4 linked regions of the Homo sapiens genome follow. The protein of the gene in region 4 interacts with the protein of the main gene of each other region in a pairwise test. Each region holds a gene or a part of one and is shown on either strand. Other genes may lie near its edges. The genes, in order: NRBP1, MYLIP, NRBP2 and TSC22D4.

The links.
Region 1: the proteins of TSC22D4 (region 4) and NRBP1 interact in binary tests that used the Homo sapiens proteins (3 or more experiments, as listed by UniProt).
Region 2: the proteins of TSC22D4 (region 4) and MYLIP interact in binary tests that used the Homo sapiens proteins (3 or more experiments, as listed by UniProt).
Region 3: the proteins of TSC22D4 (region 4) and NRBP2 interact in binary tests that used the Homo sapiens proteins (3 or more experiments, as listed by UniProt).

The regions. Positions count from the first base shown.
Region 1 is NC_000002.12:27,431,624-27,438,644, reverse strand, and holds part of NRBP1 (nuclear receptor-binding protein), read right to left. Parts: intron 5,397-7,021; exon of another isoform or gene 5,392-5,396; 5' UTR 5,372-5,391; coding exon 5,162-5,371; intron 4,973-5,161; coding exon 4,850-4,972; intron 4,657-4,849; coding exon 4,555-4,656; intron 4,175-4,554; coding exon 4,085-4,174; intron 3,924-4,084; coding exon 3,883-3,923; intron 3,513-3,882; coding exon 3,418-3,512; intron 2,923-3,417; coding exon of another isoform or gene 2,899-2,922; intron 1,893-2,898; coding exon 1,809-1,892; intron 1,599-1,808; coding exon 1,540-1,598; intron 1,384-1,539; coding exon 1,285-1,383; intron 1-1,284. UniProt on the Homo sapiens protein: Required for embryonic development. Plays a role in intestinal epithelial cell fate and proliferation, thereby involved in the architectural development of the intestine potentially via the regulation of Wnt-responsive genes.
Region 2 is NC_000006.12:16,139,083-16,146,103, forward strand, and holds part of MYLIP (E3 ubiquitin-protein ligase MYLIP), read left to right. Parts: intron 1-2,473; exon of another isoform or gene 2,474-2,542; coding exon 2,543-2,728; intron 2,729-3,937; coding exon 3,938-4,135; intron 4,136-4,616; coding exon 4,617-4,781; intron 4,782-5,814; coding exon 5,815-6,235; intron 6,236-7,021. UniProt on the Homo sapiens protein: E3 ubiquitin-protein ligase that mediates ubiquitination and subsequent proteasomal degradation of myosin regulatory light chain (MRLC), LDLR, VLDLR and LRP8. Activity depends on E2 enzymes of the UBE2D family.
Region 3 is NC_000008.11:143,837,963-143,845,759, forward strand, and holds the start of NRBP2 (nuclear receptor-binding protein 2), read right to left. Parts: upstream 3,012-7,797; 5' UTR 2,873-3,011; coding exon 2,744-2,872; intron 2,268-2,743; coding exon 2,145-2,267; intron 2,069-2,144; coding exon 1,967-2,068; intron 1,864-1,966; coding exon 1,774-1,863; intron 1,588-1,773; coding exon 1,547-1,587; intron 1,447-1,546; coding exon 1,352-1,446; intron 1,234-1,351; coding exon 1,210-1,233; intron 1,139-1,209; coding exon 1,055-1,138; intron 977-1,054; coding exon 921-976; intron 814-920; coding exon 718-813; intron 1-717. UniProt on the Homo sapiens protein: May regulate apoptosis of neural progenitor cells during their differentiation.
Region 4 is NC_000007.14:100,469,203-100,476,223, forward strand, and holds part of TSC22D4 (TSC22 domain family protein 4), read right to left. Parts: intron 5,239-7,021; coding exon 5,072-5,238; intron 1-5,071. Other genes in the region: TSC22D4-C7ORF61 (uncharacterized protein LOC122198330), read right to left, coding at 5,072-5,238.

The sequences.
Region 1 (7,021 bases), on a different chromosome or scaffold from region 4:
GACAATTAACCTGCTTTCCTGCTTTTAACCTTGAAGGCTAACAAGGTCACATACCTAATCTTTCACTTGAATACTCCACCTCAATGTTGAAGTAGAAACTTACTCCACACTATCCTCCTGACTTCCCACTAGTCTTCTTTTCTCTCCTGTTCCCTACTATACTTATCTAATGAGTTACAAACTGTTCTTGTTTGGACCTTCCTGCCCAGGCTCTGCTTACTATAGTCTATCAACTGATTCATAACCTTATGTCTTTTAAATCTTAGCTCATTATTTCAGGCCACCGTCCCTAACTAAAACTGTATAAATATAAAATCCCAAACAACTGGTTTAATTTAAATTGACTGATGTGCTTAAAAATATAAAAATGGCTGTCTGAGAGTATACAGCAATGGCCTGAAGTAACCATCAAATTAATTTACCTCCATGTAGACACATTCAAATTAACATACTTTTTTTTTTTTTTTGAGACAGTCTCGCTCTCTTGCCCCAGCTGGAGTGCAGTGGCCCAATCTCAGCTCACTGCAATCTCCGCCTCCCGGGTTCAAGCTTGCCTCAGCCTCCCGAGTAGGTGAGACTACAGGCACACACCACCATGCCCAGCTAATTTTTGTATTTTTAGTAGAGACAGGGTTTCACCATGTTGGCCAGGCTGGTCTCAAACTCCTGACCTCAAGTGATCCACCCGCCTCAGCCTCTCAAAGTGCTGGGATTACAGGTGTGAGCCACTGCACCCAGCCAACACACAACTTTTTTTTTTTTCTTTTTTTCTGAGACGGAGTCTACCTGTGTCGCCCAGGCTGGAGTGCAGTGGCGCGATCTCAGCTCACTGCAAGCTTTGCCTCCCGGGTTCATGCCATTCTCCTGCCTCAGCCTCCTGAGTAGCTGGGACTACAGGCTCCCGCCACCAAGCCTGGCTAATTTTTTTTGTATTTTTAGTAGAGACAGGGTTTCACCATGTTAGCCAGGATGGTCTCGATCCCCTGACCTCGTGATCCGCCCGCCTCGGCCTCCCAAAGTGCTGGGATTACAGGCGTGAGCCACCATGCCCGGCTTCCAACACACAACTTTTAACCCCAGCATCATCCATCTTAACCCCCTTACCTGTGTGTTTCTATGCAAAAACATGGTAGGCACCTCCTAAGAAAATGTTTATAGATTTTTCGTGTCCTTTCTGTTATGTTCCCTAGCTCTTAGGAGCATATACCCAGTGGGTACAAAGGAAGAAAAACCAGAAGACATTTGAAGGTCAGTTGAGGAGGGAGTGATCCTGAAGATCCTTACCCTCTGTAATGGGTCTTCTAGAAGCTGGATGGCACTGCTGATGGCTTCCTGTGGCACATATGAGGACTCTCCATTGCCCTGAATCTCCAGCACTGCCATCTTCAGTGAGGAAGAATAAAAAAAAAAGTAGACACCTAAGAACTTCAGTGCTCCCACAATCACTCCCTCCAAGCCAGCGCCTTACTTGTCTTCCCTCCATTCCCAATTCCATCTTCTCATCTGACCCCTTTCCCCCCTCCCCTCCAGTCCCCTCACCTCCAGTGCACACATGCCAAAGGAGTAGATGTCCACTGCTGTTGTCACATTAGTGACTTCTAGGGAAAACAGAGAAGGCTTTGGTTAATCAGAGGATTGGGGGCTAGGGTTGGCAGGAATGCCTTAGGAAAAAAAAAAAAGAAAAGAAAAATATTTTGTATGCTGGTAGAGAAGGCCTAGAAGTTTCAGTTATATTGCCTCTGTACCTCAAGTTATAAGGTGCAAAAGCAGGGGGATGAGGACAGGGCAGAGAAAGCAGGAAGGCTCACCTCCATACTCTGGTGCAAAGAAGTGTAGATTCTTCTGCTCTTCTCGACAAGTCTTCACATGATTGTTGATAGTGTCAGGAGCCACTGGGAGTAGGGGAGACACCCACAATCTGACCATCATCAATGAAGAATAGTCTCACTCCAGAGAGAGGCCCCAAAAGCCAAATTCTCTCCTGAAGTCTCCTTTCTGATGACCCTCAACAGGCACAAACATATTCCCTTTCCTGTCCTGAACTACAGACCACACATGGATGCCACCTACCTCCCCTTTCTTAGGCCTACTGCTTCTCATCTAATGTCCCTAAATCAGGAGCAACAAAAGCACCAGACTAAATTAACAGATACACAGGGGCTTCAGGCTGGTCTAGAAGCAATGAAGTTTAAGGAAAAATTTTCACTTGTACTGCGTTCACCTTCCCTAAATCCCAGGTACCTCTAATCCCTGCTCACATGAAAATATTTGGTTTTAGTTTTTTCATCCACCCTGCAAATAACATAAAAACACAGGCAGCCCTTCCTAATCTGGGACAATTGGAGACCTCAGGAACTTGGATAAATAAGGATAAGAAGTATTAACATACAGCTCAGGAGGTAGCCTCCTTCTTACCCACCTTTGCTGAGTGAAACTCAAAACAGCTCAGAATTGAGCTAATACCCTTGAATCTGTTCCACTTTTAATCCACCAAAACATTTTAGACTCCTGTTCTACCCCCTTATTCCTCAACACTGTCTGCCACAGAGCTGAACGAGGAACCAGGACCAGGCCCAATTTGGACTCACTCAGATCATAAACAATGACTACAAGTCACAGAGAATCTGGGAGCACAGTATGATCTGGGAACTAGCCTGATGATGAGGGAGAACATGAATCCAGGAGGTAAGTGGCCAGCCAGGCAGAATCCACAGGAAACAAGCAGGTTATGAAGGGGCAAGCAGGCGGAGGGCTGGCAGGGCAGAAGCTAAGCAGGCATAATTAGGCAGGGAAGATAGGGGAAGAGGGTTTGCTCCCACGACTGCATGCACTGGGCAGCCGCCAAGGGAGCAGAGGGAGCACAAACAGAGCCCCAAGTGGGGCAGAGGGAGCTCTCACCATTAGCAAAAATCCTATGAAAGACTGTTGGGAACAGAGCAGCCCGTAAGCGGGAGGGAGGAAAACAGAGAAAAGTTGTGAGCGATGGAGCAGCCAAGCCCCAGACAAATGGACACACAAATACCACACAGACACAGCACACAGAAATGTTGTACACTGCATACAATACACAGCAAACGAAAGCACTCACAGCAGGAACAGCCTGGAACCTCCTCTGGCAGGGTCTGGCCCCAGGACTCAAATCAAACCTCAAACCTATCTCTTGCCCTTTCCCAGCCTCTTATCAGTATCTCTGTATTAACCCCAATTTTCCCTTCAAAAAGGTGTAAGATTATATATCCTACCCCCTCTCCACTAATTAACTGGCCTCTCCTATTAATTACTCCTAGCAAGGTCCTTTCTCTTCTCACCAGCCCACACCTCAGAATTTTGCTCTGTTATCCCCCATTCCTTTCATCTTACCCCCATGGTTCCCAAATTCCCGAGGCTCCCCTGCCCAGAACCTCTCCCTCCCCTCACCAGAGCCAATCTTGATGAGTCCGTTGTGCTGGATGAAGATGGTGTCACAGGTCAGGTTCCCATGGATGATGGGGGGGTCACAGGAGTGCAGGTAGCTGTGGGGGCACTGGGCTGTTAGAGGGGCCACTGGGAAATTAAGGGCAGGGGGAACCCAAGGGTTAAGAGGAGCAAGGGCCAGGTCTCCTGCTGGTCACCATAAAGATAATCCCCACACTCTGAATCTCCATTATGCCTGATGATTTAAATAGCTGGATAAGCACTAGGAGAAAGAGGTAGGAGATAAGTGTCGTGGTTAGGGCATTAGGACGCACCCTTTAAAAGACCCGTAGGGGCCCTAATCTTGACAGTATATGATTCAAAGAAAGTGGGGAGAGGCAGAATAGAACAGAAGAGTAGTGCCCTGAAATCTGTTTGGAGTAACTACATCAGGAAATATGGGTAAGAAACTAACCAGGTACTACTTACCTTAGGGCAGAGAGGATTTGTGTGCACCAACGCTTCCATGCCTGGAACAAAGTTGGATCCAAGGGTCAGCAGTAATTCCCTCTCTTAACTCTCTCCCACTAGCTCCTTCCGTCCCTTCCTGATCAGCTTCATTATTAACAGAGTCCTTTTTAAAACCACCCCCAAAAACCAGCCTCAAACTTTGTCTGCTCTCCTTCTATACCTTTTCATTCATCGTCTTGTGGTTCTTTTTGGTCTTCTTCAGAAATTGCTTCAGACTCCCAGATGACATGTATTCTGTGATAAAAATGACCTGGGGAGGCAAAGCACTTACTAAAAGGCCTTATAGTAGAAATGATCCCTTCCCTTGTTAACATATTTTAAATTTGAAGGTTTGTTAAAATTTCTCTCCTTTTGTTCTTAGCTTTACTTACTTAGACTAAATAGGGCAATGAAAACAAGCAATGAAAGTTATGGGAAGAAAGAAGCAAAAGTTCACTCATTTTCTGCCCAATCTATAGCCACACAAAAGGCATAGGTGACAACTGAAGCCCTACTCTTATCGCCATTGCAGCTGATTCCAGTTCTGTTTCAAAACTACCTTGTTTTAATCTCTGAGTGTAAAAGGAACAATAATAAATGTAGCTAGTCTCTTTGCAATAAGTTCAGGAAATATGGGGAAAAAATTCTTACCCTGGCCTTGTTCTCTTTAATGTCAGCCCAATATTTGTGAAACTTAACAATGTTAAGATGCTCCAATTGAATCAGATTATCAAACACAGCACGAACCTTTTCCTGAAAGCAAGGGAGACAGTGGAATAACAGAGTCACAAATCACTGTAATAATCCTGAGAAGCCATTCCCTATCCCTCCCCAGAAACGATCTAACCCCAACATACTCTCCTCACGGGCAGCTTCCCAACACCAATTCCTCTCTAACATCAGTGTTCCAACATTCCCCAGGCTTCACCTTTTCAGCATCACCTACCTCCTGCAGCTTGTAGTTCTTGCGTTCAGAGAACTGTACCTCATTCCACACAACCTCTACACCTTCCTCTGTATCCATGGCCAGGTATGCACTGTCAATACCTGGTACATTCCGTTGATTCACCTGAGAAGAAATTCATATGAAAGAGAATTAAACTTATCTCACAAATCCTCCATTTTAACACTCCATATGATCATCTCCTCCTAGCCCCCAACCTATTGAAGTTTGGTTGGCCTCTTTTAAGACTTTGCTCTTCCAGTTCTCACCTTTCCAGAATTCACTCACCCAAGAGTAACTGTACCATAACCTTACCTCTTCTCGCCTCTTCTGCCAGCGCCCACAGGGCGACTCTTCCAAAATCTCAGACTCATCTTCACTTTCTTCTTCTTCCTCTGGGGAAGCAGCTGAGGTTGTGGAGGTCACAGGAGGTGACACTGATGTCAGGCCAGGAGCTGAAGATGAGGATTCTACCTTTGGGTCTGAGCCACTGCTAAGTACTGTCTGGGACTCCCCCTCCGACATGCTGGAAGGAACACTCAGGCCTGCACTGGTTGGGGCAAATACAGAGGGAAAAGGCAGAGAAAGTCAGGATACATCTGTAAAGATTTAGTAATCCAGGCTGGACGTGGTGGCTCATGCCTGTAATCCCAGCACTTTGGGAGGCTGAGGTGGGCAGATCACCTGAGGTCAGGAGTTCAAGACCAGCCTGATCAACATGGTGAAACCCCATCTCTACTAAAAATACAAAATTAGCTGGGTGTGGTGACGCGTGCCTGTAGTCCTAGCTACTCAGGAGACTAAGGCAGGAGAATTTTTTTGAACCAGGGAGGTGGAGGTTGCAGTGAGCTGAGATCACGCCACTGCACTCCAGCCTGGGTGACAGAGCAAGACCCCATCTCAAAAAAAAATTTAGTAATCCAGCTGAGCACAGTGGCTCACCTCTGTAATCCCAGCACTTTGAGAAGCCGAGGCAAGAGGTTCATTTGAGGCCAGGTGTTTGAGACCAGCCTGGGCAACAAAGTGAGACCCCATCTTTACAAAAAAATTTAAAAATTAGCAGGGCAAGGTGGTACACAGCTATAGTCCCAGCTACCCGAGAGGCTGATGGGAGAATCACTTGATTGCCCAGGAGTTTGAGGCTGCAGTGAGCTATGATCATGCCATTGGCTAGGCAACAGAGGGAGACCCTGTCTCAACAAAAAACAAACAAACAAAAAAAAAGATTTAATAATCCTAATACTTATCTGCAAATTCAAAAGAAAATAAAACAGGCCAGGCATTTGAGACCAGCCTGGACAACATAAAAAGACCCCAGTCTCTACACAAAACTTTTAAAAATTAAAAATAGAAAACACACACCACCTTTGTTTCCTTTAAATCCAAAATCAGAATCAGTCCTAAATACTGAAACATTAACTATTCTCCTAACTCTAGTCTAGAAAAGGGGAGCTATCTTAGTTGAAGATGACCCTCCCAGGAATGACAAACACAAGATTTATGGCAGTCTAATCCCACTTAGAGTAAGGTTCAAATCACCAGCAAAATCAGGTGCTCCATTCCTTCTTGGCAAATACTCATCCAATAGGCTTCCCTTTGAATCCCCAAGTACACCCTATTTTTACTGTGCTCAAGAATTAAGCTATGTGTGGACGGGCACAGTGGCTCACGCCTTTAATCCCAACACTTTGGGAGGCCGAGGTAGGTGGATTACCTGAGGTCAGGAGTTCGAGACCAGCCTGACCAACATGGCAAAACCCTGTCTCTACTAAAAATAAAAAAATTAGCTGGGTGTGGTGGCACGCACCTGTAGTCCCAGCTACTCAGGAGGCTGAGGCAGGAGAATCACTTGAACCCGGGAGGCAGAGGTTGCAGTGAGCTGAGATCGTGCCACTGCACTCCAGCTTGGGCAACAGAGTGAGACTCTGTCTCAAAAAATAAAAAAATATAAACTATGTGGGCGCTATTCAGAACAGATGACTCCAGACTCCAAAATGTTTCAGTGAGACAGCCTTAAGGCTAGACCTGTAGCACCCTCAGCCAACTTATCCAGCTGAAACCCTTGGCTAATTTATCCAGCTAGAACTAACCTTGGCATTCACTATCCATCCCTTCTCTACACAGAACAAGCCCACTAGTCCATGGTGAGGCTACCCTTGGGGCACATGACTGGCA
Region 2 (7,021 bases), on a different chromosome or scaffold from region 4:
ATAAAGCAGGAACTAGTCTCTAACTTTACACCTGAAAAATAAGTTAAAAGCCACTTTTGCCTGTAATCCCAGCACTTTGGGAGGCCGAGGCAGGCAGATCATGAGGTCAGGAGATTGAGACCATCCTGGCTAACACGGTGAAACCCCGTCTCTAATAAAAATACAAAAATTAGACAGGCATGGTCTAATGTAGCTATCGGGAGGCCGAGGCAGGAGAATCGCTTGAACCCAGGAGGCGGAGCTTGCAGTGAGCCCAGATCGTGCCATAGCACTCCAGCCTGGGCGACAGAGCAAGACTCCATCTCAAAAAAAAAAAAAAAGGCCACTTTTACATAAGCAGTAATTAAACTAAGAAGACTTCGTTTGTGGCAATATTCTTCAAGTCTTTCAGAGCGTAATTTCTTCTTTAACGAAAGCATAGATGCAGATTTTAGTTTCCTAACAGCACACCTCCACCCCAGTCGAATACAGAGATGGGTACATTCACCAAGATGAAGTTTATCAAATGGTCATCTAAGAAGCCTTTTGAGGCCTGCAACAGTGTAGTAAACCACGGCTTGCTGAGAATGCTGGATCTCAGTCCTCAGATAGCTATTTTACAGCAAATTATTTTCATGGTGATTCCTTTGCCCCAGTGGGGGCTCCTTTCTCAGTTTAGCAGTATGTCAGAAATACTTTAAAGATTAGCAGATGTTTGGGTTAATAAAAACCATCTTTATCTTCTTTGAGGCTATTACACATTCTTACTATGATTTCTTTACACGGGCTTTGAAAAAAAGAAAAAACTGCAGTATTTGGCAGAGTTTCATCATTTTAAATATTTCTTTATCATTATAGAATGCACAAAACATTGAATTTAAATACTTCTTAGTGAAAATAAGATTAATGGCTCTTGTCAGCCAGACATTGTAGACTCTCAGTATAGCACCTCCTTAGATTTGTAGCCTCACTGCCTCCTCCTTAGTCGATTCTTACCTTGCTCATGTTCCTCTACCTGGAATGTCAGACACAGATATATTATTAAACAGAAACAGTGCTGAGGACATCGCACCTGGCCAAAGTTACAATTCATTTGTTAATGGGACGAATAATGTGGCAATTAGCCTTGTTTGAGAGGTTATGACAAGTCATCGAAGGAAGGTTAAAACTTCACATTTGCCAGGGACACTTGTTATAACTGAGGCCAATCTGTCTACAGCAGTTTAGGTGCTCTTCAGAGTTTTGGGCAGTGTGACCAGTATCTGAATTTTACAGGAGTTTTTAAGTGTGACATAACCTTTTAGTAAATGTAGAATATAGTATTGTATACAACTAGGATGGGCTTAAACAGGATGAAACTAAGGTTGGAAGGTAAACTAATCACACATAATATGCAGTTTTATGTACATTTTTGGAGCTCTCTGATGTTCGAGGCACTTAAGAAGTCATACATAATATACATGTTATGTCAAATACTGTACCAGAGGAATAGAGGATTTGCATGTGATACAGACCAAAGGGTATCCAAGCAAGGCGACAGAAAGAATGGCCCTCAGGACAGAGGGAGCAGCAAGACCAGAGACACCAGAGCATGAACATGCTTCCTAGATTTCCCAGGGAGAGGAATCGTTCCCTATCCTGGGGCATAGCAGCTGCAGGGAATGACAGGAGACGTGGCTGGAAAGCTGGGGCCAGATGGCGGAGACTCCTCAGCTCCACGTTAACAACGTGCTCCCTTGGCAAGCCGTACAGATCCTTTGAAGGATTTTGAGCAGAGAAATGACAAGTTTATACTAGAAACAAGCAGCATGGAAGGTAGGCTGCCTGCATGGAGTCTGGAGGAGGAGAGCAGCGCAGAGAATAGTGTAAATTCTTCCTGCAAGTAGTATTGAGGAGGTACAAATGGGAGGATAGAACTGGATTTAAATAGTTTTCAGAGAGAAGAAAGTCAAGTGAAATAGGACAAAGAGTCCAAAGTCAGTCCGTGGTCTCCATTCGGAGAAAAAGGGCTTGGGAAAGAATATATGGAGTTTGGTTTTGAATGAGCCAAAATTGAGGTACCGAAGAACATCCAGGTGGTGAAGCCTATAGGAGATTGGACATTTTTCATGTGATTCTTAGGACAGAAGCTGGCACTGAGACTAGAGATTGGGGTATCATTTGAATAAAGGTGAGAATTTTGTCTTTATGTATAGAGTTCCTTAAGATTCTATCAGAATCCATGTCAAGATACAATTTTTCTGATTAAAATAATTTCTTTTAAAACACTATAATGCAGAAACTTATGTGTAATTATTTTATGTTTTGTAACCTTAATGTTACCGAACTTGTGTTAAATAAGTTTATCTTGTTTGGGTCACAACTTTTATTCCAGAGAAACGCAGTTCTTATTTTGATTTTGCCTTAATACTGATGATTTTTTTTTGAAGTTCTTTAATGTTAAGCATTTTCAGTGTGACTTTTAAAATTGCTTTCCTTAAAAGTGACTGTGAAATTGCTAAGTAGGCTGAGATTGATGTCAGGTTATCCCCAAGCATAACCTCACTCTCACCTTGCTTTGCAGGCATATCTTTTTCTTGCACATCAAGGAGGCCCTCTTGGCAGGCCACCTCTTGTGTTCCCCAGAGCAGGCAGTGGAACTCAGTGCCCTCCTGGCCCAGACCAAGTTTGGAGACTACAACCAGAACACTGCCAAGTATAACTATGAGGAGCTCTGTGCCAAGGAGCTCTCCTCTGCCACCTTGAACAGGTGAGGCTGTTGAATATAGTATTGTTTACAACTAGAATAGGCTTAAACAGGATGAAACTAAGGTTGGAAGGTAAACTAATCACACATAATATGCAGTTTTATGTACATTTTTGAGCTCTCTGATGTTCGAGGCACTTAAGAAGTCATACATAATATACATGTTATGTCAAATACTGTACCAGAGGAATAGAGGATTTGCATGTGATACAGACCAAAGGGTATCCAAGCAAGGGGACAGAAAGAATGGCCATCAGGACAGAGGGAGCAGCAAGACCAGAGACACCAGAGCATGAACATGGCAGCATCAGGGCTACTGCATATATTCATAGAGCTATCAAATGTATAAGCATTTCCAAAAGAAGATGAATCTGTGGTACATACACATAATTTGTGAAGTTAAGACTGGGCCATTGCCCAATTTAACCAAATATTTTCAAAAAATTTGTTAGCCTTTTATTTGAAAAATATGTAAACACAATATGAAATGCTATATAAAATGGGAATTTTTTAAATCTGTGCCTTTAAGTACAAATCTCCTAAAATAAAAAATCTATTATGTATATTGGTGTTTTCTTCATCCCAGCAAGAATTAAACCAGGAGATCTAACATAGGCATTTTAGTTATCTATTCCTGCATAACAAGTTACCCCAAAACTTAGTGACATAAAACAACAAAAATTGTCTCACAGTTCTGTAGGTCAGGAATCTGGCCATGTCTTGGCTGGGTCCTCTGGCTCATGAGACTGTAGTCAAGCTGCAGGTAGAACTCTGTCTCATCTGAAGGCTCGACTGAGGGTGGCCTCCATGCCAGGTTGACTCCTGTGGTTTGTTGGCCTACCTCCTTCCCTGGCCACAGGGGCCTCAGGGGTCAACTTTATACTTATAAACTATATGTGGACAAATGCATGAGACTTTCCAATATGTAAATTTGACTTATGTATATTTTTAGAGACTTTCCATAATTCTTCCAATTCATCACCCATCCAGCATCCCCAAAGTGTTTTTACCAAGTATTTAATAGTTGAGATCCCAGTGTCTTAGACGTTTTTTATAGTAAGTTCGCTAAATACATGAAACATCAGTAATACATAAGTTTTAAGTTGTTGTGATTCATCAGTGTTAGTATATTTCACTCGTGAAGACTACATAGGTTTATCTCTAAAGCTAATATCTGTATACTTAATTCTCTGTCCTCTTGGTGTCCTCCAGCATTGTTGCAAAACATAAGGAGTTGGAGGGGACCAGCCAGGCTTCAGCTGAATACCAAGTTTTGCAGATTGTGTCGGCAATGGAAAACTATGGCATAGAATGGCATTCTGTGCGGGATAGCGAAGGGCAGAAACTGCTCATTGGGGTTGGACCTGAAGGAATCTCAATTTGTAAAGATGACTTTAGCCCAATTAATAGGTAAGCCAAGACTTAACTTTTTTTGACCTAAGCATGTGTATACATCTGTAGCTGTCAATGTAATAGAAAATAGGAAGGGATTTACTCGACAGTCAGCTCTTAGGAATGAAAGATTTCATTTTGGTATGTACATTAATTTTATTCAGGCCTAAATAACCATTTTAAATGTTATTCAAGGTATACAATGTGGCAGAGTTAACGTTTTCCAAATAACCCATTCACTGCCATAAAAAACTTGTTTTCAGCTCTAGACATGCATGTGCGCACACCCAGCACTTGCTCCCATACTTCCCTCCACATATGCCCAACTGCTTTTCACTGTATCTTTACAATAAGGCAGCATTATGGTGATGTGATAACCCCAGAGGAAGCGTCTGATTTTTCTGCTAGGTCATGAGCAAATGGGGATCCCACAAAGGCACACACATGGTGAAGAATCACTCCTTCTAGATCTGCTTTCTTTTCTCTTCCTGTCTCTTAGGATAGCTTATCCTGTGGTGCAGATGGCCACCCAGTCAGGAAAGAATGTATATTTGACGGTCACCAAGGAATCTGGGAACAGCATCGTGCTCTTGTTTAAAATGATCAGCACCAGGGCGGCCAGCGGGCTCTACCGAGCGATAACAGAGACGCACGCATTCTACAGGCACGTATCTCGTGTGCTTGGTCACCTCAGCACCACAGCTCTCAGGTTTTTAGGTGACAACCAGGTTTCTACGGTTCCTTGGATTGTTGTGTCAATGAGTCTAGTACAGAATTTAAGAAATTCTGAACATTTTGTTTCCGTAGTAGCAGTGGAGTCCTTATTAATGTAGTCTTGTTTTACCCACAGAAGGTGCATGTGTGTGAGCTGCACAAACACATTCTCTGCTTACCTCCTACCGTATTCTCTTATGCCATTAATCTAGACACAAAGTGTGTTAGGAGATTTCTATGCCTATTTAATCAATACAACAACCCTAAGGGGTTATTATTACCCTAATGTTAAAGATGAGGGAACTGGGAGGATAATTATTTACTTAGTCTAGGACTCAGCTTCAAAGCCAAGTTTGATTACCCTAAAGGTAACCCTGAGGGACTGGGCCTGCTCCACTGCTCAGGAGAAGGATAGCACAGATCATCTTTTCTTTCTGGCAGAGCTGCTATCCTGAGTCGTCACTGTGTATGGAAGGATTTTTTAATAGCAATATTGATTCCCTCATTTCAGAGGGTACTTTAAAGCCAAGTTGTGATTGGACTCACGTATTTGGACAATTAAAGCTAAGAAATTTAAGTCGTAGACAACTTTAAACTTTTTTATTTTAAAATAGATACACAAATTGTGAAACAGGATGGGAAATTTTTAGACATTTCTAACCTAAAAGCCAAGACTTCAGGCAGATGCCCTTTTTCTTCCATAAGCAACTTCACTCAGTAGCGTCTGTCCTGGGGAGGAGGTACGTGCTCACTGCCCTCTGTATTTACTGCTTTACGGAAGCCATAATGTCAGGAGATGTTAGAGAAACAGAGGTGTAATCACTGAGAATATTTACCAGACGTAAAACTGGAAGGACTTACTTTCATACATGCAGACGAGACTATGAAACATCTGCTGACATTTCTGTTCTTATTGACAACAGCGAATAAGGGTGCTGCCAGGCTCTTTGGTGTTAAAGTAGATGTTCAATCTTGCCTTGCAGGTGTGACACAGTGACCAGCGCCGTGATGATGCAGTATAGCCGTGACTTGAAGGGCCACTTGGCATCTCTGTTTCTGAATGAAAACATTAACCTTGGCAAGAAATATGTCTTTGATATTAAAAGAACATCAAAGGAGGTGTATGACCATGCCAGGAGGGCTCTGTACAATGCTGGCGTTGTGGACCTCGTTTCAAGAAACAACCAGAGCCCTTCACACTCGCCTCTGAAGTCCTCAGAAAGCAGCATGAACTGCAGCAGCTGCGAGGGCCTCAGCTGCCAGCAGACCCGGGTGCTGCAGGAGAAGCTACGCAAGCTGAAGGAAGCCATGCTGTGCATGGTGTGCTGCGAGGAGGAGATCAACTCCACCTTCTGTCCCTGTGGCCACACTGTGTGCTGTGAGAGCTGCGCCGCCCAGCTACAGGTAGGGGAGTCAGCTGCCCACTTTTGCCTGCAGCCTCACCTATCCCTCCTCTTAACGGGGAGTAGGAGCCAGGTACTGGCTCGCTAATGCACAGACGGGGAATGCCCATCTTCACCCGGAAAGGGTCTTTGTATTTGGTGACCTAAAAGGCATTGCCCTTTAGAAACATTTTAGATTAGCATACTATTTTCAACAACATAATTACTCCAAATTATGCAGTGTTTTCAAGTTCTGAAAATGAGGCTGAGATTCCTGGGTAACATATCTAGTTAGCGGCTTACCTGAGGACAAGAATCCAGGCCTCCTGAGGCCTGGCCCAGGGCTGCTTCCTCTATTTCAAGTTGCCTCCCTTTTTCTGACACTTAGGAGGATGGTCTTTATTACTTAAGATATTTGGGAAAGAATACTTCTCAATTATCCATGGATGGGTTGTTGACTCTGTGATATTGGTGATTAATTTCCTTTTATGATTGCAAATGCCTCAAGGGCATATGGGTTGGCTGTTATTTATTAGCAAGTCAAACTAATTTTAATATTAACACGAAAAAGAGAACTCACATATAGTTTTCTTCCTTTCTTGCATGAAGAAGAATTTTAAATTTCCTCTTACAAGTTTTTTCAATTTGTTTTTATTTCTCAGATGTGTTTGCCAAATGTCACTGTGGTTTTATGTAAAACTGGTTCTAGATAATACTTAGTCCTTCAGAAGCTGCTAATTTCAGAGCTAATAAGACCAAATGACCCCTGTGTCCTTTCCCCAGAAGCAGTCATAGGCTTGTCTTTTTC
Region 3 (7,797 bases), on a different chromosome or scaffold from region 4:
GAGCACCATGCTCTGCTTCCCTCGACCCCCAAAAAATCGTGGGGAGAAGCCATGATCCTAAAGTCACACCTGCAAGCCTCCTACCCATGGCCTTTTGATCGGCTCAGCTCGGGCCCAACACTGGAGACGACCTTGATGGGTCCCCACTCTGTCCACATCCGTGCCCAGCCCGGCTCCAGCTCGCCACCAGCCCCGACCAGGCACCCCCATCTCCTGAGGCCATGGAGTTAAGTCTAGACTCCGAGCAGAGGGGGCTGTGGATGCAGCTTCCATCCCATACCTCTTTTTGCCTGCTTGGCACCCACCATGTCCCCCCACAAGCTGGAGCCTCATCACCTCCTGGAAGCTTAAAGTCAAGGACTTGGAGTGAAGCAGACCCAGGTGCAGATGTTGGCTCCACCACTCACTCTAAAGCCTTGGGCAAAGGACTCATCTCCTCTGAACCTTGGTTTCTTTATAAAACGGGCATGGTGATGGCAGCCACAGAGGGAGGGTCTCTCTTGCCTTCTTGTCCTTAGAATGTGCTGACCCCTTAGGGCCTTCAGGCCTGGAACCAGTATGTGCTCCCACTGAGGTCCTCTTTGGGAGGGGTGCAGTCAGCTGGTATACCCCTCAACTGCACAAACTGTGATGTTCTCCCAGGTCTGCCTGGAGCACCTTGCTAGCCCTAGCTGAGCACGGTGAGCCAGCTGGGGAGGGGCAGGGCAAGCTGCTTACCCGCATGTTGGGGTCACTCAGCGAGTGCCTGGCGCGAGCAATGGCCTCCTCTGTGACCCGGGTGTCCCCATTGGTCTGGATTTCCAGTACAGCCATCTGGGGCACAGAGCCAGGTCAGGCATGGGGAAGGGACCACACAGGTGAGCCAGGCAGGGCACAGTTAGGAGGAGGGCAGAGCACAAGGTGGAGGGCGGGGGCAGTACCTCCAGCGCACACATCCCAAAGGAGAAGATGTCCACAGCGGTCCCATCGGCCACCTCTGAACAGAAGAGAGCACAGGACACGTAGGAGAGAAGCGCAGGGTAGGCACGGGGCACCCGGACCCAGCACCACTCACCTCCATACTCTGGGGGGAAGAAGTGCAGGTTCCGAAGTTCCTCTCGCTCAGCGCGGATGGGGCTTCGGAGATCATCTGGAAGTGCTGTGGGAGGGCGCAGAGCTGAGCGGGCGGGGACCTCTCCAGGACCCCGTCCCCCCAAAGTCCGCACTTACCATTGGAGAAGATTCGGTGCCACACTGCCAAGGGGCGGGAGAAAGAGTGGAGTTAGCTGCTGGGGCATCAGAACTCCTCTGCCCTTGGCTCCAGGCACCTTCCCCTGCCCCGTTCCCCCACCCAGCCCTGCCCCGCCAGCACCGGAGCCGATCTTGATGAGGCCGTTGTGCTGAATGAAGATGGTGTCGCTGGTCAGGTTCCCGTGGATGATTGGGGGGCTGCAGGCGTGCAGGAAGCTGCAGACGTTGGGGAGGGGAGAGTAGGAGGAGCCGGTCAGGAGGCTCTGGAGAGATGGGGGCTCGGTGGCGCCGCGCCCAGGCCAGCCCAGGCCCTCACCTGAGCGCAGACAGGATCTGCGTGCACCAGCGCTTCCAGGCCTGGCGGCGGACGCACGACTCCGTCGGTCGGGTGGGCGCAGGAGAGGCGGCTGGGCCTGCGGAGCCCGCCCCGCATCCTCGCCCAGCCCCTGTCCGAGGCCGCCGGGCACCCCCTCACCATCCCAGTCCCCGAGGCTGCCCCAACCCCGTCCTGTCCCCGTGGCTGCCCCAGCCCGCTCCCCATACCCGGGCGTTCATGGCCTTGTGGTTCTTCTTGGTCTTTTTGAGGAATTGCTTGAGGCTGCCTGATGACACGTACTCTGTGATGAAGATGACCTGCACGGTGCGAGCTCAGGATTTCCACCAGCTGCGGGTTCGTCCCCATGCCCGCCCCACCTAGCTGTGGTCTCTGCCTGCCCGGGGCCTTGCCCGTGCTCACCCTCGCGCAGGCCTCAGAGGTATCCAGCCAGTACTTGTGCAACTTCACGATGTTCGGGTGGTCCACCAGCACCAGCTGCTCGAACACGGTCTGGATCTTCTCCTGGGGAGGGAGGGTGGTCGCTGGGTGGTCAGCAGGTGGTCACCCAAGCAGGATGAGGAGGGGGCAGCGGTCTCACCTCGTGCGCCGCGAAGGCCTTCCTGTCTCCGAAGTGGAGCTCGTTCCACACCACCTCTACCCCCTCCTCCGTGTCCATGGCTAGGAAGGTGCTCTGAAGCCCTGGCATGTTCCCTTGGTTTACCTGGGGGTGAATAAAGGGTTATGTGTGCCCTGGTGTGTGTCAGGGTTGTGGGTGAGGATTTGGTCCCTGTCCACACCTTTCCAGTGGGCCCAAGCGTGGGCTGCAGGCCCTGAGCCACTCTGCGGGAAGGTGGGGCTTGGAGGGTAGCTGCCCCCAGGAGCCAAGGGCTCCTATCCAAGGGCTGGGCTAAGGGGATTTGGAGCAGGTTTCAGGGGGTCGAGGGGGATCCCCAGGAAGCTAGCGGCTGAGTCCAGAGGCATGGGGAGGTGGTCCTGGGAGGAGACTGGCCCTCAGGGAGTCCCAGGGCGAGCGCCAGGCCAAAGGGGTCCAGGGGTGGCTGATTCGCGGGCCGCGAGGGGCCGCGGAGAGGTTTCCAGCCGCCGCGCTCTCCCAGCGCCCCCACGCCCCGCGCAGCCTCCAGGCCCCTCCCGCTCTGGGAGGGCGGTGTCACCCCGTGCCCCAACCCCCGCGCCCACCTGCTCCCGTCGCTTTTGCCAGCGACCACACGGGCTTTCCTCCAGGATGTCGCTCTCGTCCTCGCTCTCGTCCTCCCGCTCCCGCTCCCGTTCCCGGGCCCGCCTCGGCGCCGGCTCCGGGGCCGCCATGGTTCGGCCAGCCCAGGCCACCGCCCTCTGCGCGATCCGCCGCCGGCGCAGCCTCTCCCGGCCCGCCCTGGCCTCGCGCCCAGCAGCCCAGCCTAGAGCCGCCGCGGCAGCCTAGAGCCCCAGCCCCGGCTCTGGGAATTGGGAGGCGCGGGCGCGCGGCGGACGGGCGGGGCCCGGGGGCGGAGCCGGCGCGCACCTCCCGAGCCGCCTGTGCCTGCCGGAGCCAGAGCAGAGCTTCCCCGAGAGCTGCCGAGCCCGGGCCGCGCCCAGGCCCCGCCCCCCCGGAGGCCCCGCCCCGCGAAGCCCCGCCCCAGTCCCTGTTTCCTCCTCGTCTCCCAGGCCTGCTCCGCGAAGCCCCTCCCCAGGCCCTGTCCCCTCCTCGTCCTCCAAGCCTCCTTCGCGAAGCCCCGCCCCAGGACCCGCCCCACCCCCGCGAATCCCCGCCCCGTTTTAGTCCCCGCCCCCGCCCGTTCCCAGGGTCCTCCGCGAAGCCCCACCCCAGGCCCCGCCTCACCTCCTCGAAGCCCCGCCCCTATGAGGCCCCGCCCCGCGCAGAGGAACCGCCCCCAAATCCCCGCCCCCTCGGAGGCCCCGCCCTGCGGACACCTGGAGCCCGGAGCGCCCACTTCTCTCGCGGTTGCTCCCCTAGGATCTGGGGGAAGACCCGGGGCATCTGGGGGCCCCCAAGCCCACGGCACCCTCCAGCTGCAGAAGACCCCGCGGGCTCGAAAGCGGGACCCGCTCTCCTGGCCACGCACTCATTCCCCGGCCGACCCCCAAGGGACAGGTCGAAGGGGCACCGAGGGCGGGGGAAAGGCCCACCAGCAGGCTGACCCAGGCTGACTTTGATCGGTGACCACGAATCTCTCCCTGGCCCGCCCACCAGTGCCTCCTCCCGCCCACAAGCCCATCTTCTCACTTTCCAGGATGGCGATTTTCTCTTTTCTCCTCAAACGCGCATTTCCTTTCCGCGGCTGGCTCCCATGGGACAGTGGAACCATGAGGGGGGAGCCCACCCGGCTCACACGACCTCTCCCTCCGGAGGCCGCTCTAAGCACACCCTCCAGCCACGCCGACCACCGGGGCTGTCCCCGATTCTCACCTAAAACCCCCTTCAGCCCACAGCCCCCACGGCCTTCCTGTGGTCTCCTCCCTCCTTCACGGCGGGTCCTCATCCTTTACCTTCTCTCTCTGGAGCCCAAATTGGAACTCCGCTCCTCCCCTCCGCGCAGCTCCATGCACTGGCCCTTTGGGACGCCTCTTTCTTTCTTTGGCAGAGGTGCATCTGGCCCTGCTGCGTCCCCTGTGGTCTCTCTTTTCTGACCAGCCTTGGTCACCAGGCACCTTGTGTGTGGTTTCCACCAATGCCAGGTGATCCTGCTGAGGCCCTCTGCAGTAAAGGTTTGGGGTGTTCAAATCCTCCACCCTGAAACTGGCCCTGACCAGCTCCTGGGAGACACCCTCTAAGCCCTTGGAATGTTCTGCCTGATTTGAATGTCTGTGTTTACCTCGGCCACACCAGATTCTATGCTAAGCTTGTCCAACCCGCAGCCCAGAGGGTGCATTCGGCCAAGGACAGCTTTGAATATGGCCCAACACAAATTCATAAACTTTCTTATTGAGATTTTTTTTAAAGCTCATCAGCTGTTGTTAGTGTTAAGTGTATTTTATTTAAGGGTATTGCCCAGGACAATTCTTCCAATGTGTGCCAGGAAAGCCCACAGATTGGACACCCCTGGTCTGTGCTAACAATATGGTCTACGGGGGGACCTTGGGCCATGTGGCATCAGCCTGACCTCTGCAGGGGCTGGAGGCCAAAGTCAGCCACCTGGGAGGTCAGCCATGCCTGTGTGACCAACCCAATAAAAACCCTGGACACTGAGGTACGGAGGGCTTCCCTGGCTGCTGACATGCTGTGCTCATTGTCACACCTCAGTGCTGGGAGGTTGAGCACTGTCCCCATGCCTGCAGTGGGTGGGGACACCTGCAGACCCGTGCTGGTCTGTCCTGGGTTCTGTTCTGTGAGTCCTTGCCACTGCTGATTTTAACGCATCCATTGCTGTAATAAATAGTACCCTTTCCGAGTTCTGTGAGTCCTTCTAGTGAACCATTGAACTTGAGGGTGGTTTTGGGGAGCCCCCCCAGTGGTCCCTTCTCACTTGGTATGAGGGCCTAAACATGAAGGCCCAGTAATTGGTCCCATTACCCTACCTCACGTCAGCTGCCTTCTTCAGCTGAGCCCACCCCAAGTACACGGCCCTGTGCCATCGGACATGACAGGCACTTCCCCTCAGGGTCTCTGCCCTGGTTATACCTTTGCCCGGAACGCCCTTCCCAAACATCCTCTGAGGTCACTTCCTGAGAGGCCTGTCCTGACCACGAATCCTGACATCACAGTCCCCACACCCTTTCGCCTGCTTGACTTGACTTTTCCCGGAGTATTCACCCCACCTGACTTGCATCTGGGTTTTTCTCATCTCTCTTCTTCACTGTCTGTGTCCCTGTTGCGATTCGAGCTCCCGCAGGGCAGGAGTGTCTGCTCGTTGTCCCTGCTCTTTCTCTGGTGCGAGGACGGTACCCGGCACACAGCAGGCCCTCAGCAAACACTTGTTGAATGGATCTGTGGGTGGGCAGGGGTGCGTTTTGGCGGGTGTGGTCCAGAGAAGCCCCTAAGGAGGTAAGCCTTGAGCAGAAGAATCTCAATGAATTTCCTCCCCTTTCTCCGCCCCCATAACCAGACACACATGTTCTGTGGTAGGTCACATAGTGTCCCCCAAAAGTCTACATCCTGATCCCCAGTACCTAGGAGCACAGCCTTATTTGAAAAAAAAAAAATGGTCTTTGCAGATGTAAATAAGTTTAGGATCTTGAGATGCTGGGGTGGGCCCTAAATCCAATGTTTGATGTCCTTATCAGAGAAAGAAAAGGGATACTTGGGGTGCAGAGAAATAAGGTAGACAGTCACATGAACATGGAGGCCAGTGTTGGAGGGATGTACCCACAGGTCAAGGCGTGCCTGGGACTCGAGGACACGAGCTGTTCCAGTATAATAAAATATATAAAATAAGAATAGTTGTACTGATATAGATCTTAGATATGATTATATATGAATATCATTAATCATTAGTTTGTAGCAATTACTCTTTATTCCAATATTATAATAATCCTCACTCTATAATCATAGCCTAGGAAAAACCAGGCCATACAGAGATAGGAGCTAAGGGGACATAGTGAGGAGTAACCAGAAGACAAGAGTGCGAGCCCTCTGTTATGCCCAGACAGGGCCACCAGAGGGCTCCTTGGTCTAGCGGTAACGCCAGCGTCTGGGAAGATGCCTGTTGCCAAGTGGACCTTGGTCTAGCGGTAGGCGCAGTGTCAAGGAAAAACACCTGCTACTTAGCAGACCGGGAAAGGGAGTCTCCCTTGCCCCGGTGGAGTTTAAAGAAGACTCTACTCCTCCACCTCTTGTGGAGGGCCTGACATTAGTCAGGCTCGCCTGCAGTTATCCGGAGGCCTAACCGTCTCCCTGTGATGCTGTGCTTCAGCGGTCACACTCCTAGTCCGCCTTCATGTTCCATCCTGTACACCTGGCTCTGCCTTCTAGATAGCAGTAGCAAATTAGTGAAAGTACTAAAAGTCTCTGATATGCAGAAATAATGGCGTAGGCTGTCTTTCTCTCTGTCTCCTCTCTCTCTCTGCCTCGGCTGCCAGGCAGGGAAGGGCCCCCTGTCCAGTGGACACATGACCCACGTGGCCTTACCTATCATTGGAGATGGCTCACTCTCCTTATCCTGCCCCTTTGTCTTGTATCCAATAAATATCAGTGCAGCCTGGCATTCGGGGCCACTACCGGTCTCCGCGACTTGGTGGTAGTGGTCCCCCGGGCCCAGCTGCCTTTTCTTTTATCTCTGTCTTGTGTCTTTATTTCTACACTCTCTCGTCTCTGCACACGGGGAGAGACCCACCGTCCCTGTGGGGCTGGACCCTACTTGGGACTGCCAGGGCCATGAGTGGTGAGGAGAGAGTCCTGGGATGGATTCTCCCTCGGAGCCTCCGGAAGCATCAGCCCTACCGATACCTTGATTTTGCACTTCCAGCCTCCAGCACAGTGAGCGAATCTGTTTGTGCTGTTTTACGCTACTCCTCCATCTCTGGTGCTGCTCCAGCATGACCCCCGTGGTAAGAACAGTAACGTGACAACAGCTATGTGTTCGCGTGCAGGGATGCGTCCCAGCATTTATTCCCATGCACAGAGTGGGTCGTCCTACTGCCTGCCCACGCACAGAAGTGGTGGCCGCTGCGGCACACCCTCCCTGGCCTCACTCAGGCTGTGCCCCAGGGCGGGGGCGTACCCTCCCTTCTGCTCGGCCTCTGAGCTTCTCCACCCCTTGATGCTGCCAGGCCATTTCAATTTATTGGAAGTTCTCTAGGGCTGCTCTTAGCCATTGAGCCATCCACCTGCCCTCTGAGCCTAATCTGTGAATTGGCTTTTTTTTTATTTTTTATTTTTTTCAGAGACAGGGTCTCACTCTGTTAACCTGGAGTGCAGTGGTGTAATCACAGCTCACGGCAGCCTCAAATTCCTGGGCTCAAGGGATCCTCCCACCTCAGCCTCCTGAATAACTGGGACTATAGGCACATGCCACTGCACCCAGCTATTTTTTAAAACTTTTTGTAGAGCCAGTCTTGCTATATTGCCCAAGCTCATCTTGAACTGCTGGGCTCCAGGGATCCTCCTGCGTCAGCCTCCTGAGTAGCTGGGAGTGCAGGCGTGAGCCGCTGTGCCTGGCCCCCTGTGCGATGCCTTGTGATGCCAACTGCAGGTTCGCTGCTCACTGCCTCCTCCTCTTCCACCTTGCAGATCTACTGGGGCTCCATGGTTGTCACCTCAGAGTCTTCCCAAGCCTCTCCCTCCTGTGAGGCAT
Region 4 (7,021 bases):
GACAACAAGAGCAAAACTCTGTCTTAAAAAAAAAAAAAAAAAAATCGCCTATGGGCCTGGGACCTGGGTCTGGGGTCTCAGAGGAAGCGAGGGTTTGAGGAGAGGAAGGGAAGTGAGCTTGGAGAAGGGACACTGGGAAGAGGAGCAACAGGGCTTGGAAGAGGGCTGGGAGTCTGGGGTGACAGGGTCTGGCTGCAGTCTGGGAAGTGGCCACCAGAGGGCGACTCAGGCCTGGCTCAACAGCCCCCAGGGCCGGGCTCCAGGCTGGCTCCACGACGTTGGGCTCCTGGTCCCAGAACCTGGCTCTCCCTCAAGCCCCACTCTCAGGCCCCACCTGCGCAGGCCCTTGTGCTGACCTCATCCTCCAAGGCTCCCTCTCCCACCCCTCAGGCCCCAGGCTCTTGCCCTGAGGCTCCCGACCCACCCTTGCACCCCTGCACTCTGGCGCTGTGGCGGGATCCCCAGTCCTGCCCTCCAGCCCCCAGCTGGGCCCCCCTTGGAGCAGGGGCCTCAAGGCGCTGCAGCCCACATCCCTGGACTCCCTTGTAAGCCCTCCCTCCTGGCTGTCAGCTCAGACTTGCTTTCCTGCAGGGGGATCAGCACTCAATTCAAGGTGACCCCTGGATAAGGTCCTGCAGCCAGGAAGGGAGCACAAGGGAGCTGGGAATTTTCCATTTCTCATCCCAGCTCTGGGTGCAGAAGGCGCTGACAGGTGGAGCAACTAAGGAGGTGACTAGGCCTGAGCGAGCAGGATGGGGTGGGTGGGGGAAGGGCATCTGGGACTCTTGGGGTGGTGGGAGAGGAGAAGTTGAAGGGTGGAGGTGGGTCTGCCAGCAGGAGGGTCAAAGTAATTTTCGAGCTATTTCAATCAGCAACACCTGGGTGGAGATGGAGCCACCACAGAAAGCCCAATACTGCCACCACCCCATTAAACACTCACAGAGACCAAAGGGGTTGGATACACAGGGATAGGAACATGGGCCCTGCTGGGCAGAGACTCAGGGGTAAAGATGTCAAGTAAGGTGTTCATTCTCACCAGAGATAAAGGAATAATACAGCAATAAACGTTTGTTAGCCGACAGGTGACTGTCTTCTGTTTGTCTAGCGCCTGGGAGTTTTTGCTCTTGTTGCCCAGGCTGGAGTGCAATGGCGGGATTTTCCCTCATTGGAACCTCCACCTCTGGGTTCAAGTGATTCTCCTGCCTCAGCCTCCAGAGTAGCTGAGATTACAGGCATGAGCCACCATGCCCAGCTAATTTTTGTATTTTTGCCGGGGAGCCTCCGGCAAAATGGGGTTTCACCATGTTGGCCAGGCTGGTCTTGAACTCCTGACCTCATGATCCACCCACCTCAGCCTCCCATCTCAGTCCTGGGATTACAGGTGTGAGTCACTGTGCCAGGCCTCTATTGGAACATTCTAACACACACTTCAAGGGACCAGGGCTCTGGCAATGCAGGCCCTTCCCTTTAGGACCCCAAAGCGAGGGGTTGTGGGCACTGTGCTAGAATTCTTTGACAGGGTCCGGGGGAGGAAAGTAGGGGCTGCTGAGACAGGATCGACCTCCACCACAAGCCCAAAAGCAAGTTTGTATGGATTAGAAAATGCCCCCTTCTTCGAGATCCTTAATGCCATCTTCTGGAAAACTGTCGTGACTTCAAGCATTGACTGTGATTTCAAATATGAGCGGCACCCCCTGGAGTTAGTTGTGCAGTGTGTGACATGCACAGTGGGAGACTTAGCCCTGCAGGACTCTTGGTCCTGGGGCGGGGACAGCCCTAGAAGCTGGTCTTCCTCTTTGAGGGTCAAATAAAACGGCCTCAACATGAAGATGAGATAAAAAGCAGGACACCTGGGAGAAATGGGGAGCCTGGGATCTTGGGGACAGGGGCCAGCCCTGCACACTCTCCAGTGGGTTCAGGGGATCCCCCAGGGCCTAGGTCTGGGGCCAAGAAAGTGTCATCCAGCTGCCCTGTCTCTATGCTGTCCCGGATCTGTGGTGTCTTTGGGGCGGGGCTGGGGAGGTCGGGGAGGGGGAAGGGGGGCTGGCTCCCTGCCCTGCTTGGGAGAGCTGTACCTGACTGTCCTAGAGAGAAAGGATATTGTAGACCATTGCCGCCACCTCTTTGCCTGGGACACAGGCATCCCAGTAGGACAGTGGAGAAGGTGTGGCTTTGGAGTTGGACCCAGGCTCCAGCTGCAGTCCAGCCACTTAAACTAGCTGGGTGGCCCTTGGGCAAGTTTCTAAAACCCTCCTGGCCGGGTGAGGTGGCTCATGCTTGTAATCCCAGCACTTTGGGAGGTCGAGGTGGGTGGATCACCTGAGGTCAGGAGTTTGAGATCAGCCTGGCCAACATGGTGAAACCCCGTTTCTACTAAAAATACAAAAATTAGCCGGGCATGGTGGCATGCACCTGTAGTCCCAGCTACTGGGGAGGCTGAGCCAGGAGAATCGCTTAAACCTGGGAGGCAGAGGTTGCAGTGAGCCAAGATCGTGCCACTGCATTCCAGCTTGGGAAACAGAGCAAGACTCCATCTAAAAAAGAAAAAAACAAAAACAAAACAAAAAAAAACCTCCTTCTCTGAGTCTCAGATACTTCATCTGGCAAGTGGGAGAATGGAACTGCTTTTTAGGATTAGAAGGGAGAAGGCAGTACCGGACCCAAGGGAGGCACTGGATAAATAAATGTACCTTTTCTTTCCCAAGTCCCTGGGATCCATTCTGTATAATGCCTGGATCCCCCAGGCCGGTCACTGCCCCCACCCCCATTCCTTCCATCCACTTCTTCACACCTTAATTACCTCCTGCCTGCCGGGAGGGGACAAGGATTTCCAGCCCTGGGGCACGTGAGCATTCTAGATTCACCTGCACCCTCTGTTCGCCCATCCCCAGATTCAGGGACTGGTCAGGCGTCCCCAACTCCCTCCCTGTGATCCAGGCACTGAACATCTCAGCCCACCTTCCCTCTTAAGAGAGAGGTCCCAGGCCACTGGCATCCTGTCCTGCCAGCCCTGTGCACACCAGACAGGAGAGGTGGGGCCTACATGTCCCATTCCTAGGGGGCAGGGGGTGGCCCAACCCAAACCCGCTGGCCTGGCAGGGTGGGGCTTGAGGGGCTGGGCTGGGACAGATCCCCAAGAGCCTTGGAGCACAGCAGGGTGAAGTGGAGGCTGGGAACCGGACCGGTCAGATTGGGGTGTGCAGGGAGGGGGTGGGATGGAGGGAGGCAGGGAGGGAGGGTACAGGGGAAAGACGGAGGCCTCAGGAGGTTGAATCCTCTAAGACAGAGACAGCAGGAGGCTGGGCTGTGAACTCAACAGGGGTGGGGGAGGGACGGGGAGTCCTCTTGCCGGGGAACCTCCCAAGTGGGAGAGGGAGAGGGCGGGAAACGCTGAGAATAGCAGTGATGGCGGCAGGTGACTCTCCCAGCCCTGGCCGACCTCACACCTCGCACATTCCTGAGAGTGGGAATGGGGCGTGCAGAAGCCACCCAGTCCTGCCCAGCCCCGCCCAGCCCCACCCAGCACTGGCACTCTTGCCCTCCGTCCCACCAGCTCCTGGCCACCTCCTTTGCCAGGTCCCTATCCTCCCTGAGGCCGCAGGACCCTATCAGTGGTGGGCTTGAGTCCCTGATCCCAGCGAGTGGCCCCTGATCTGGGGAGGACAGGAAGGAGCGACTCCCATCTGGAATTGGTCCCTCAGGCACCCACTCACCCACTCTCGAAGCCCCACCCCCAATTTCCTTCCAAGCAGGAAGTCCCTCCCCTTGAAAACCTCCCACGGGAAGTCCCACTTCTCCCTCCAAAAGAAAAGCGGTGACTCCCCAGCCCTTCTGCCCGGTTCCTATCAGTCCCCGGGGAGAAGCAGGCAGCCTGGCTATCTCTGACTCACGATTCTGGGCCTCCCTTTTCAGCTTGCTGGCTTTCTTAGGAATGGTGACACCTGGCCCTGAAAACCCACCCAACAGAGCACTGTCCCCTAAAGGGAGAACCCCAGAAAGTCGCTCTCTGCAGTGCTGCCCCTGCCCCTTTGCCGTTCCTAGCTCTGATTCTGTTCCTAGCTGGCCCATCTTAGGGACTTGCTTTCTCGGTTCTAGAAATCTTAGGATCCTAAAGTAGACCCTGTGGGCTATCAGGATGTCACGCTCCACAGGTGCTGTTAGGGAGTCCCAGTCCTTTGTTAGGAGAGAAAGAGGGAGATGGAACTGGGAGGAAACTGATTTCCATTCTTTTTCAGTTTTTTTTGTTGTTTTTTTTTTGAGGCGGAGTCTCGCTCTGTCACCCACGCTGGAGTGCAGTGGTGCGATCTCGGCTCACTGCACCCTCTGCCTCCTGGGTTCAAGTGATTCTCCTGCCTCAGCCTCCTGAGTAGCTGGGATTACAGGCACGTACCACCACGCCTGGCTAATTTTTGTATTTTTAGTACAGACAGGGTTTCACCGTGTTGGCAAGGCTGGCCTCGAACTCCTGACCTCAGGTGATCTGCCCGCTTCAGCCTCCTAAAGTGCTGGGATTACAGGCATGAGCCACCATGCCCAGCCTACTTCCTTTATGTATATATATATATATTTTTTTTTTCTTTCTTTCTTTTTCTTTTTAGAGATGAGGTCTCGCTACATTGCCAGGGCTTGGTCTTGAACTCCTGGCCTCAAGCAATTTTCCTGCCTGGGCCTCCCAAAGCACTATGAGTACAGGCGGGAGCCACTGTGCCCCGGCCTGATTTGCTATTCTGTCTAGAGCATGCATTTGCCAGTGGGTTCCTGGGTTGGCCAGATGATCTCTAAATCTGCAAGAGCTCTGGAATCTGACAACAATGACTCCCTTCAGACTCTAAAAAAGTCTGTGACCTGACAGTTCTGAGCCAGGGAGTCCCACCCAGCCCTCTCCACAGAGAGGGAGTGGGTCCGAAATCAACTGTGTGCAGTGGCTATGCCCAGGCCAGGTTTCTCTAAGAGGTCCTCTCCAAGTTCAACCTGGGGGAAGGATGCCTACCAGGCACTTTCTTACAGCTACCCCGGGTGCTGGGCGGGGAACCTGAACCCCACGCCCCACCACCCCACGAAGCCCACCTACCTATCATCGTCGCTGTCTAGGTGACCACTGATGGCCAACATGGAGTGGGCCAGGCTGAACTTCTGAGCTGCTACTGCTCCGAAGGGGTCTGGAGATTTGTGAACCAGGCTGGCATCGTGGGTGAAGTAGAGGGCTGGGGAGCTGGGGCGAGAGTCAAGTGGGGGCACCTGGAGGCGGAGAGGTAGGAACCATCACATGAAAAGAGAAAAGAAAGGAACCAGCTGCCTTAAAACTTGCCTATTAGCCTTCCTCCCTCTCCACCTCCCCACTCTCTTTCGAGGACCCAGGAGTCCTGTCCCCGCAGTCCTTCCCTCCTCCAGCTCTGGAGAAGGCATTAGGCAGGTACTAGAAGCAAGAAGTGGGTCAACCTAAGGAATGGGAGGAGTGGTGTATAGGACATTAGAGAGAGTCTCCCAAGTGGGAGGAGGGGGTGACTGACGGAGGAACCCAGAATAGACTCCAATGCCCCAGCTCCCACTGGGCCGGGACCCCTAATCAGAGGCTACGCAGCGTGTCTGCCTTCTTTTATGTTTTATTTTTATTTTTTTGAGACAGTCTCACTCTGTCACCCAGGCTGGAGTGAAGTGGCACAATCATGGCTCACTGCAGCCTTGAATTCCTGAGCTTAAGCGATCCTCCAGCCTCAGCCACCCGAGTAGCTGGGACTACAGGCATGCACCATCATAACTGGCTAATTTTTTATTTTTGGTTAACACAGGGTCTCAAGATGTTGTCCCGGCTGGTCTCAAACTCCTGGGCTCAAGTGATCCTCCTGCCTCAGCCTCCCAAAGTGCTGGAAGAATGAGCCACCACTCCCAGCCTGTGCCTTTACTGGAGTCTCGCTCTGTCGCCCATGCTGGAGTGCAGTGACGTGATCTTGGCTCACTGTAACCTATGCCTTCCAGGTTAAACTGATTCTCCTGCCTCAGCCTCCTGAGTAGCCGGGACTACCGGCACCTGCCATCACACCTGGCTAATTTTTTTATTTTTAGTAGAGACGACAGGGTTTCACCATGTTGGCCAGGCTGGTCTTGAACTCCTGACCTCAAGTGATCTGCCCGCCTCGGCCTCCCAAAATGCTGGGATTACAGGCGTGAACCACTGCACCCAGGCTGCCTTCTTAAAATGACTCCAATGTCACCTCTTAGAGAGGCATTTCCCCATCATTCACTGGTTTACTGAACTATTTCATTTTTTTATAGCACCTAACATTATCTGAAATTAAAGTATTTATTGTGTCTCTCCCCTGCTAGAAGGTCAGTTTGCTCAGTAGCTATTTGTAGAATGAATGGATCCTCAGAAACTGCTCCTCCATCCCCTCACCCACCCCCCACTCTCGCTTCCCCTCTCAAACTTCTCGGACTCAGGTGGAATTCTGCTCCTGCGCTCTGCCCTAGGGTTGGGGGGGGAGCTGGTTGTGGAGCTGGGGGGAGGCGGAGCCTGGGCGTGGACCTGCATAGCCCAACAGGCTCTGGGGGCAGCAGCAAAAAGGGCGGGGGCGACAGGAACATGACAAGACGCCTCTGTGAGGCCCCGGGAGGCCCCAGCTTCTCAGAAAAGCCAAGAACAGAGAGTCCAGGGTGGTTAAGGGACAGAGCAGAGGAAGGGGGCCCAGGTGGTGTCCCCTGGCCCTTCTCCACCACTCCCCTCTGTTAAGAGGGAGAAGAGGCATGAGGGGACGTGGAAGGGAGACAGACTTTTGGGCAAGGAAATAGCAAAACAGATGCGTGCAAACAGAAGACCGTCAGGAGGTGGGGGAAGGCTGGGGAGTAGGGGGCACTGAGAGAGAGAGGCAGGGTCTGTGGCCCCAAGAGAAGCTCAGGCCAGGCTTAAGGACAGAGAGCAGGGAAGCTGGAGGCCAAGGGGGTTTGCTTTGGAAGAGTCTGGGGACAGGACAGGAAGAGAAACAGCATCTTCTCCCCTGGGGTGGGTGCTGAATGCAAGAGTTCA